Linked DNA regions of Homo sapiens: region 2 is linked to region 1. Evidence: fine-mapped expression QTL. A gene starts in region 1. The other region holds a variant in brackets. All regions are shown on one strand. Distances are between the middles of the regions. Region 1 holds the start of PCGF2 (polycomb group ring finger 2). Region 2 overlaps LASP1 (LIM and SH3 protein 1).

What was found. PIP is the estimated chance that this variant, and not a neighbour inherited with it, causes the effect. A credible set is the group of variants that fine-mapping cannot tell apart.
Region 2: its variant is the best candidate, but not a certain one, in a credible set for the expression of PCGF2 in skin (TwinsUK, PIP 0.50).

Annotation. Positions count from the first base shown.
Region 1 is chr17:38,746,474-38,750,723 of GRCh38, forward strand. PCGF2 (polycomb group ring finger 2) reads right to left here and starts at 1,863. Exons shown (of 11, transcript NM_007144.3): 1 at 1,723-1,863; 2 at 1,406-1,498. LOC100287808 (a long non-coding RNA gene) reads left to right here and starts at 2,561. Exons shown (of 1, transcript NR_149004.1): 1 at 2,561-4,250. RefSeq lists enhancers at 1-432, 1,461-1,996.
Region 2 is chr17:38,873,047-38,877,547 of GRCh38, forward strand. All of the region lies in intron 1 of LASP1 (LIM and SH3 protein 1), which reads left to right. Among named protein-coding and RNA genes, the nearest start is that of LASP1, 5.2 kb to the left of the region's middle. The variant TGA/T (reference allele first, on the strand shown) is at 2,042.

The DNA of each region.
Region 1 (4,250 bases):
TACGACCCTGGTCCACCCAGGGTAAATTATAACATAAGTCTTCCAGCAACAAAAGCAGTTCAGCTTCCAAAGTCCGCTCTGGGGACCAGAGGCTGGAGGGCTGCAGTGGGCATGTGACCTGCACAAAGCTGTACCCTCTTCCTGTTCGGGCTCTCTCCATTCCCATGACAACAGCTCCATCAACCAAGATCTCTCAGGCAAGGCCAGGGGCAGCAGAGTCCCCCTTCCTGCCCAACCCCCAAGACTTCAACTTGAACCCTACCTAGCTACACATGGTCTGGATCCTGGGGTTGGTTTCCTGCTTCATTCCAAAGTCAGTTCTAAAGCCTCAATCCCCCAACCCCCAACCAGGGGAGCCCGTGGGAAAACCTTCCCACCAAAAAGCTGCAACAGAGCTGGCTTTATGCTCCCAGTAATAACACCTTGGACCAGAGTGAAGGGGGGAGGGAGGAGAGAAATTAAAGAGTTTCAGGAACAGAAACTGCCAGAGGTCCCAGAGGAGGAGGCATCAGAACAGAGCGGGGAGGGGACAACCAGGAGACAGCCCTCCCCTCGAGACAGACCTCTGGGGAGACTGAGGCAGCATGGGGGACACTGAGGGACAAAGATCTCGGGAAGCGCTGGGTAACACTTCCACAATATTCACTGGCAAATCCACCCGCCTCCATGCCGCCTCCTCCCACCTCAAGCCAACCGGAGCGATTATGGGCAGACAGGGGCAGTGGGGGAGGGCGAGGGGCAGCCCGGGCCCACCGTGGAGACAGGCAGGGGGTGTCTGCTTGCCCGGGGGTCCCACGCCCTCAGAGCTAGCAGTAGGAGGGCGTGCGCAGGGTGGGGTGGCTGGGCGTCCCAGGGGAAGGGGGGCCAGTTTAGCAGATCCCCCTGCTTCCGCTGGCGATGGGAAATATTGCGATAAATTTCCCTCCATCCCCATTCTACCCCCAGCGCCCGGGCTTCCCCAGGAGCCCATGTCCAAGGATCAGGGACCCCAGTTACCGGGTGGCCGCTCCCACCTTCCCTAGAGCCAAACTTTCTGCGGGGCCCCGGGAGGGGTGTTCCGGAGGGAGGCTCTGCTGAGGTGGTTCGGGGAGGGGGCGGGGCGCCGGCGCCGGGACGGGGAGCGGGGACCGGCGGGGGGAGGTGCCCGAGAGGACCCGGACCCCGGCGGGGAAGGGCGCCCTCCCCCGGCCTCGCGGCCGCCCCAAAGCACATCCCCTTCTGCCGGCCCCAAGTCCCCGCGCGTCCACGGCGCCCCTGTGCCCACGGGAGAGCGACCCCCGCCCAGATGGAAAAGGGGGTAGACCGGGCAGAGCGAGAGGCGGCTTTGGCTCGTGGGGAGCGGCGACCCAACCCAGCGCGCATCCCGCAAGCCCTCCCGGCTGCCCCGGACCTTCCCCCTCGCTACCTCGGAACAGGGTCTGCCCGGGGGCTGCTGCACAAAGAGGTGGTGGTCGAGGGAGACGCCAAATCGTTAAGACGGGGAGCCCGTTTCGGCCATCTTGGAAGAGAGGAAAGGGAAAAAGGGACAGAAAAAAGGGAGAAAGAAAGGCGGACGGGGCAAGCTGGGCTAGGGACTGACGGGGCGCGGGGGGTGCGAAGGCAGGATCGGCTCAGAGCCTCCCCCTCCCATCGGGGCTTGCGAAGAACGGCCGGCCCCCATCCCAATCCCCAGAGGGTTACAGGCCAGGAGAGGGAAAGGCAGGGGGAGTCCGCTCCGCTTACCTGGGTTCGGGGTCCGGTGGGTCTCGGGGAGGGGGGGATGGGAGGGAGGGAGGGAAGGGAGGGGAGGGGGGCCGCAGCCGTGTCGCTCGCCCGGGCGGCGGGAGGGGAGAAACCTACGGTAAGAAAGGAGTTTGTGAAAGCGGCTTGGGGTGGGAGGGAGAGGGGAGGGGAGGGGACCGAGGGGGGAGGGGAGGGACCGGAGTGTGGGGGGGAGACAAAATGGCTTTTTTCCTCCAGACAAGAGTAGGTCCCGCCCACCACTCACCCACGTGACCTCATTCCTTCAGGATGCTGGCAGAGACGGGAAGAGGAGGGGGAGGCTGGCGCGGCCGCTCCCCGCCACCGGCTGCCGGGTCCCTAGCCAGGACGAGACCCCTCCCTTCCCATGCGGCCGCCCCGACCCCGGAGGATGGATTCTCTTATGTTACCTTCCGCAGTTAGCCCCCCTCCCTTCAAAATATGGGTTCCCCCCACTGACACTGTGATGCCCATCCCTAACTGGGGCGCCTGGAAAATGGTGAAATGGGGACTGGGCTGAAAGGTGGCTCGTGGTCCTCCACGCCCCGGCCTAGACCAAAGGGCGCGGGGCTCCGGCGGGGGACGCGACGCCTTCAGCCAGGCGTCCGAGCGATTTTCATTCACTCCAAGTGACACTCCCTTAAAATTAATAACTGCATCTGGGAGGGCGAGCGTGTCCTCCCCACTCCCCTTGCCCCCTCGGCGGCAGGGGCGCTGGCCCCGAAAAGCGGCGCACCAGGATCCAGCCTGGGCGCCTGGCAGGGAGCAATCGCGAGAGGGGAGTGGAGGTGCGGGGTGAGGCCGGGTGGGGGGCCTCGCCGCGGGGGGATCGGGTAGCTCTGGCGGAGGCTGCGCCCCCGGCGTGCTCGGGCAGAGAAGAACGGAGGCCCGCTGAGGATGGGAACTCAGGCTCCGGGTCTGGGACACAATAATCCGGCCGAAGGCGAGCGGCCACACTGGACTAGGAAACGAGGCGCCGGGCTGTAAGGTGGGCCCGCGCCTTTTCTCCTGCCTGGCGCTGATTCCCGCATTTTTCGCTCGCGCCCTGCGCTGCGCGCTGCCTGTGCGCCTCCCTGGGCGCGCGGGCGGGAGAGTCGGGCGAGCGCCAAGACGGCTGGGCCCGACTCCCACTGGCGCCCCGGCTCCACCTGGCGCTGGGGCTCCGGTCCGCAGTGGCTCCGGCAGGAGGGAGAGAACGAGGAGGGAGGCTTGGAAACGCCGGGAGTAGCGGTGAGGCCGACGCCGGGGAAGCGAATCGATACTGCGTTACTGGACGCCCGTGGGCCTCATGAGGATGGTCGATTCCCTCATTCGTTATTCACGATTTATTAGGGATGGCGGCCGCGTCTGTCCCTCCAGAGAGCTCGATTATCCATCCGGCCAGCAGCGCCATTAAGCGCACTGACGGTGGGAGGCTCGAGTTAGAAATTAGGATAGGAATCTTCGCCCAGTTTTGGAGCGCCTGCCTCCTCTTCCCTCGTTGCTCGCAGCCAAGGCAGCCGCGAAGCTGGGGGCCTCGGGTGAATGCTTTCGCCCTCTGGCCGGCGACCAGGAGACCTGCGCACACTGGCCGCCGAGTGACCCCAGCTCGAGCCTGCAGCCACACCAGCGGGACGGGGGCGGGGAGGAAGAGGAAGGGCGGAGAGACTTCCTTCCAGAGGGAGTGGTCCGAGAACCGGCGGGAGAAGGGCCAAGGGAAGATCCGGTCACCTGCTCCGGAGCCTGCAGGCGGAGAGGCGAGTAGTTCACCGGCCCCGGAGGAAAGGGGACCCTCCCACTGTTCCCAGGCAAATGTGTCGCCGGCATCCTGCACTCTGCCGGGGAAGACGCGCATCCACTCGCTCTGCAGGGAGGGGAACGCGGGAAGGACTCCCAGTCAGCCGCCCCTCTCTGGCTACAAGACCCCGAACAAGAGAAACCTGTAACAGGGGCTCTGCGGAGATCTGGATCCCACCCACCAACCACATGGGCACCTGGGGGGCTGCCCCTCGGGGCATTATCAGCCAGTGGGAAGGGGGTTGACGTTCCTCTGCGGCCCATGAATCCTGGAGGGCTGCCCGAGGGGCCACCGGGGTCCATCCACTTATTCTTCGGTTGTTAAGCGCCAGACAGGAGAGAACCGCTAGAGAGGAGTGTGCTAAGACCCTATTACCCACTAAAACTCCATTTTCATCTTTTGCGTCCTGGATGACTAGTCTCCACATTCCTGGCCTTTCTGGTTTCTCAGGAGAACCTTCTGACCCAACTCTTCCCACATCGAAAGAGTTTCCTAGTCTTTTGTTCTACTACTAGCCGACATAGAAAGCACCTGTCATGTGCCAGTGTCAAATACTGCGCTAGGAACTGGGAACTCAAGGCACAGGAGCCTGGCTTTTGCGCAGGGCGCTCACAGGCCGGTGGGTGCAAACCCTGAAGGACACACAGCCTGTCCCTTTAGCGCCCATCGCTTCTGGTGTGAGCTCCCGCTAAGGGTGGGTGAGTACTGGGGTGGGCTTCCAGAAGAGGCCTCC
Region 2 (4,501 bases), 130 kb after region 1:
ACTTTGTGCACCTGCTTTGTATCTAGGGAGCTGTGTTGTCAAGAACCTCGCCACGTCCCTCTTTCCTGGCTTGCTTCCCCAGGTTTCTGAAAACAGGTGGAGGTAGAGGATTGGTCTGCTGCCAGTTCCCCTGGAATCCCCTGTTAGGGTGGGCTCTCTGCCTCTGCTTGTCTCAGCGCTCCCTCCCCACTCGAGGGGGTTGAAGTCCTCACAGCTGTGGTGCCCCGTTTTGCTAGCTGAAGCTTAGAGTACCCCACCATCATCTTGTGACCATCCCTTCATAATAGCTACTAGTTATCACGATATGCTGGGCTCAGTCTTCACAGCAGCCTCACAAAGTAGGTGTATTCGCTCTTGTAAACGATGCACTCCATAAATGGAGGCTCAGGTAGCCCATGTGGCTCATCTCCCTCTCTTAGAGCTGAAATTCACATCCACAGTTCTTTCTGCTCAGCTCTTCTGCCAGTGTGTTTGCAGAAAGTACTTTTATTTATACATATTTATATTTTATTTACATCTCATTTGTGCCAAAAGTAGGTCCCATCCCTTCCTGACCCTATCTGGAGGAATGCTCTGGGCCTGGGGTCTTGTATGGGGGCGTGGGGCCACTGGGAATAATCCTGTCCTCCTCGGAATTTGTGGAGGTGCAGCAAAGATCTATGCCTTTAAGCCAGCGGGTCAGGTGGCCAACCAAGCTAGGCTGGTGCCCCGGCCAGGGTGGGGCTGGCATTGCCTCTGCAGGAGGGAGAAACTGTAACCCTGGGCAACAGGAAGGGAAGAGATGGTCTCATAATCCATCCCTGAGTCATGGCCACCCCAGGTAGCCTGGGTTCAGAGGCCAAGGTGCCAGGCTGCAGGCACAGTGACACGAAGCTTGCCACATCCCCCCCAACCCAGAGCCACAGAGGGACAGGCTGTCCCAAGTGAGGGGTATCCTTGCAGGCTTCTGCCCCTACCAGCCTGTTTACCTTTCTTTAGAGTGGGTTGCAGGTAGGCAAGGGAAGATCAAGATGACCCTGCCTTGGAGCCTCGGATCCAGGCTGAGAGGCCTCTAACAGGCAGCAGAGGTAGGGTCTGTCTGGTTTCTGTGAACAGGGAAGCCATGGACTTTGCAGGCAGCAGGAAGGGGCAGAGGTGCATGCCTCGAGGTGCAGTTTCCTTGAGTCCTGAGGCCCAGGAATGCTTCGCTGAAATCATCTTGCCTGGGGCCTTTAAAAGAGGGGGGCTCTTGCTCTGGGACAGAGCCCATGGGGCAGGGCAGAGGCAGACGGGGTCACTGTGGGGTCCTCTGGACATATTTCCCTGACAGTGTCCTTCCCCAGACCCCATTGAGACAAGGCAGGAGTTCTTTCATCTTAGGGTCCAGGCTTGGCTCACAGCGGTTGTGGAGGGACTGGCCATTTTCTGCCTCCCCTCCCCACAATTTTCCTACCCCAAAAAGGACACAGTGGAAGGAGCTGGTGGGTTTTCTTGAACCTTGGGGCCTTCCTCCAGAGAGGGTAGGGGAGTCGCCTGAAGCTGCTGGAGGTGCCAAGCATTAGGGGTGGAACGGCCTCCTCTCCTGACCTTCCAGCACTCTGGGAGACAGTGGCTGCAGCTCCACTTGACACTTGTGCTTCATAGTAACTGGTTTCCATGTTTCTGCTCAGAGCCCCCTGCAGGGGGACAGGCGACCACCCTCCTCTGCCCCACCCTTGGGTGTCTGGATGAGAGTGTGGGGCCTGTGAGGGAGGTGGGAAGGAGCTACTGATAGAAATAGGTGCCATCCCCTAGAAGAGGGGCTCTGCTTCCTCCGCGTGGCAGCCTGGAGGGGTCTTTGGAACCACTGGGTCCAGTGTTGGCCCTGTGCCCCCTGCCTGCTCAGTACACCCCACCCTCCTTCTCCAAGGGGCTTGGCTCCGGGTGCAGGCCTGGCCATCTGGAGTAGGGGTCTCTCTCCCTTTGTCTCCCCAACGTCAATCAGGAGGCAGCCTTGGAGGTCCGTGGTCCTAGGACAGTGTGTAGCCCTTCGTGTGTGTGTGTGTGTGTGTGTGTGTGTGTG[TGA/T]GAAAGTGGGTCATGGTCTGGATTCTGGAGAATGTTTTTCCTGGCAGGCCCCTGTGGGGGTAGGGGGAGGCAGGGGCCCAGGCAGGGGCCTAGGCAGGGGCCTGTGCAGCTAAGTAGGCAGAGGCCAGCAGACTGGGTGGTGACCAGGCTGGGGCACCCTGCCAATGCCTCCCAGTTACTCGGGGAGGGAGTGGGGCTGTCACTTCAGGGGCCTGTGGGGGCAGGGACCAGCCTGTCTTAGTGTCCCTGGTGGGTTCTGTGTGTTGGGGTATGCACCACTTCAGGGGCCTGTGGGGGCAGGGACCAGTCTGTCTTAGTGTCCCGGTGGGTTCTGTCTATTGGGTTATGCACCAGAAGGAGTCTTTAAGTTGCCTCATAGGAGTTTGGGGGCCCTGGGTCACTGGGATAGGCCCAGGTTGGGGAGGGGGCCAAGCTTAGACCCGCCACTTCTTTGCTTCCAGACTTCCGGCTGGCCGTCCTCCCCAAGAGTGGTTCTCCTAGCATTCTGTTTAATATTCCACCATTAGGTTTTTCCTTTGGGTCTTCTTGATAGGGAACCAGTACCCTATTAGAAGGTGATTTCCCCCTGAAATTACCCTGGGGGTCTCTGGTTGAAGTGGGCCATGGTAGGGAGGTTGAATCCCAGATTCTCAGCCTTCTTTCTGCTATCCCCTCCTCCCAGTGTCTCAGAAGCACCTCTCCCTCCGGGGGTTTGGAGACAACATTTTGAAAAGCATCGCCTTGGGGGAATTCCTTGACAAATGGCCAAGAACCAGCTCTGTGGCTGGGCTCCTTCAAAAGTCCCCCTGGGCCTGCCTCCTGGCCTCCTTCTTTTGGAATGGGGAATGTCTCCCTTGACTACTGGGAAATGGGGCAGGGACAGGCCAGCCAGGTCACTCAGGTGGCCTGGATTATTCTGGGGTCCTGGCAGTGGACCCCTGTTTGGTGGTGATCCAGCACATCATCCTGGGCTTCTGGGGGTGAATTTAGATCCTGTTGTCATGGGTTTGCCTAAGCATCAATACTTCTCAGGGGTTCCACAAAGACCCCTCCAGGCTGCCACGTGGAGCCTGTTAGATCGTTTCTCTTTTTTTTTTTTTTTTTTTTGAGACAGAGTCTTGCTCTGTCACCCAGGCTGGAGTGCAGTGGCACAATCTTGGCTCACTGCAACCTCCACCTCCTGGGTTTAAGTGATTCTTTTGCCTCAGCCTCCCAAGTAGCTGGAATTACAGGCATGCGCCACCATACCCGGCCTATTTATTTATTTATTTATTTATTTATTTATTTTTGAGATTAAGTCTCGCTCTATACCCCAGGCTGGAGTGCAGTGGCATGATCTCAGCTCACCGCAATCTCTGCCTCCTGGGTTCAAGCGATTCTCCTGCCTCAGCCTCCCGAGTAGCTGGGATTACAGGCACGCCGTCACTGCACCCGGCTAATTTTTTTGTATTTTTAGTAGATACGGGGTTTCACCATGTTGGCCAGGCTGGTCTTGAACTCCCAACCTCCAGTAATCCGCCTGCCACAGCCTCCCGAAGTGCTCGGATTATAGGCGTGAGCCACCGCTCCCGGCTAGATCTGTTCTCTTTCTGTCATCACTCTCTTCCCTCCGTCGGCCACCCTGGATGGGCCCTGTGTCCCACATTCTCTTTTTTTTTTTTGAGACGGAGTCTTGCTCTGTCACCCAGACTGGAGTGCAGTGGCCTGGGTTCACGCCATTCTCCTGCCTCAGCCTCCCAAGTAGCTGGGACTACAGGCACCCGCCACCACGCCTGGCTAATTTTTTTGTCTTTTTAGTAGAGATGGGGTTTCACCATGTTAGCCAGGATGGTCTCGATCTCTTGACCTCATGATCCGCCCGCCTCGGCCTCCCAAAGTGCGGGATTACAGGCGTGAGCCACCGTGCCCGGCCGTGTCCCACATTCTCACACGCATGAATGGATTGGAGCTGTGGTTGGCACAGTGAAGCCCCTCTGCACCCCAACACACACAATCTCCAGTGTGAGCCCTGACCCCCTCGGCTAAGGTTCACACCTGCTGTGCCCAGCACCTGACATCTGAGTGCTCAGAGGTGCCAAGTGCTGTGCTGAGGGCTTTGAAGGTGATTTCTCCTCAGTCCTGGACAATCCCAGGAGGGCCAGGTGTTATTACATCCATTGTACACACCAGGAAGTGGGCTCCTCTGAGGTGCAGGGCCCCGCCCAAGGCCATACAGTTAGTGGGGTAGAGCTTTGATGTCCACTATAGGGGTGTCCACCTTCAAGGCTTTGAAGTAGAGCCCTTCAGTGCCTCAGTGGGAGACCCGCTGCCGGGTGCTCTCCTGCCCTCCTCCTGGGGTGGGAGAGGATGAGGGAAGGGTAGAAAGGATGTGTTGTGTTGACAGAGCCTGGGACACCCAGCCCACTCCTCTGGCCAGGCATCCCACAGGAAGTGGGAGGTATCGGAGCTGTAGCACCAC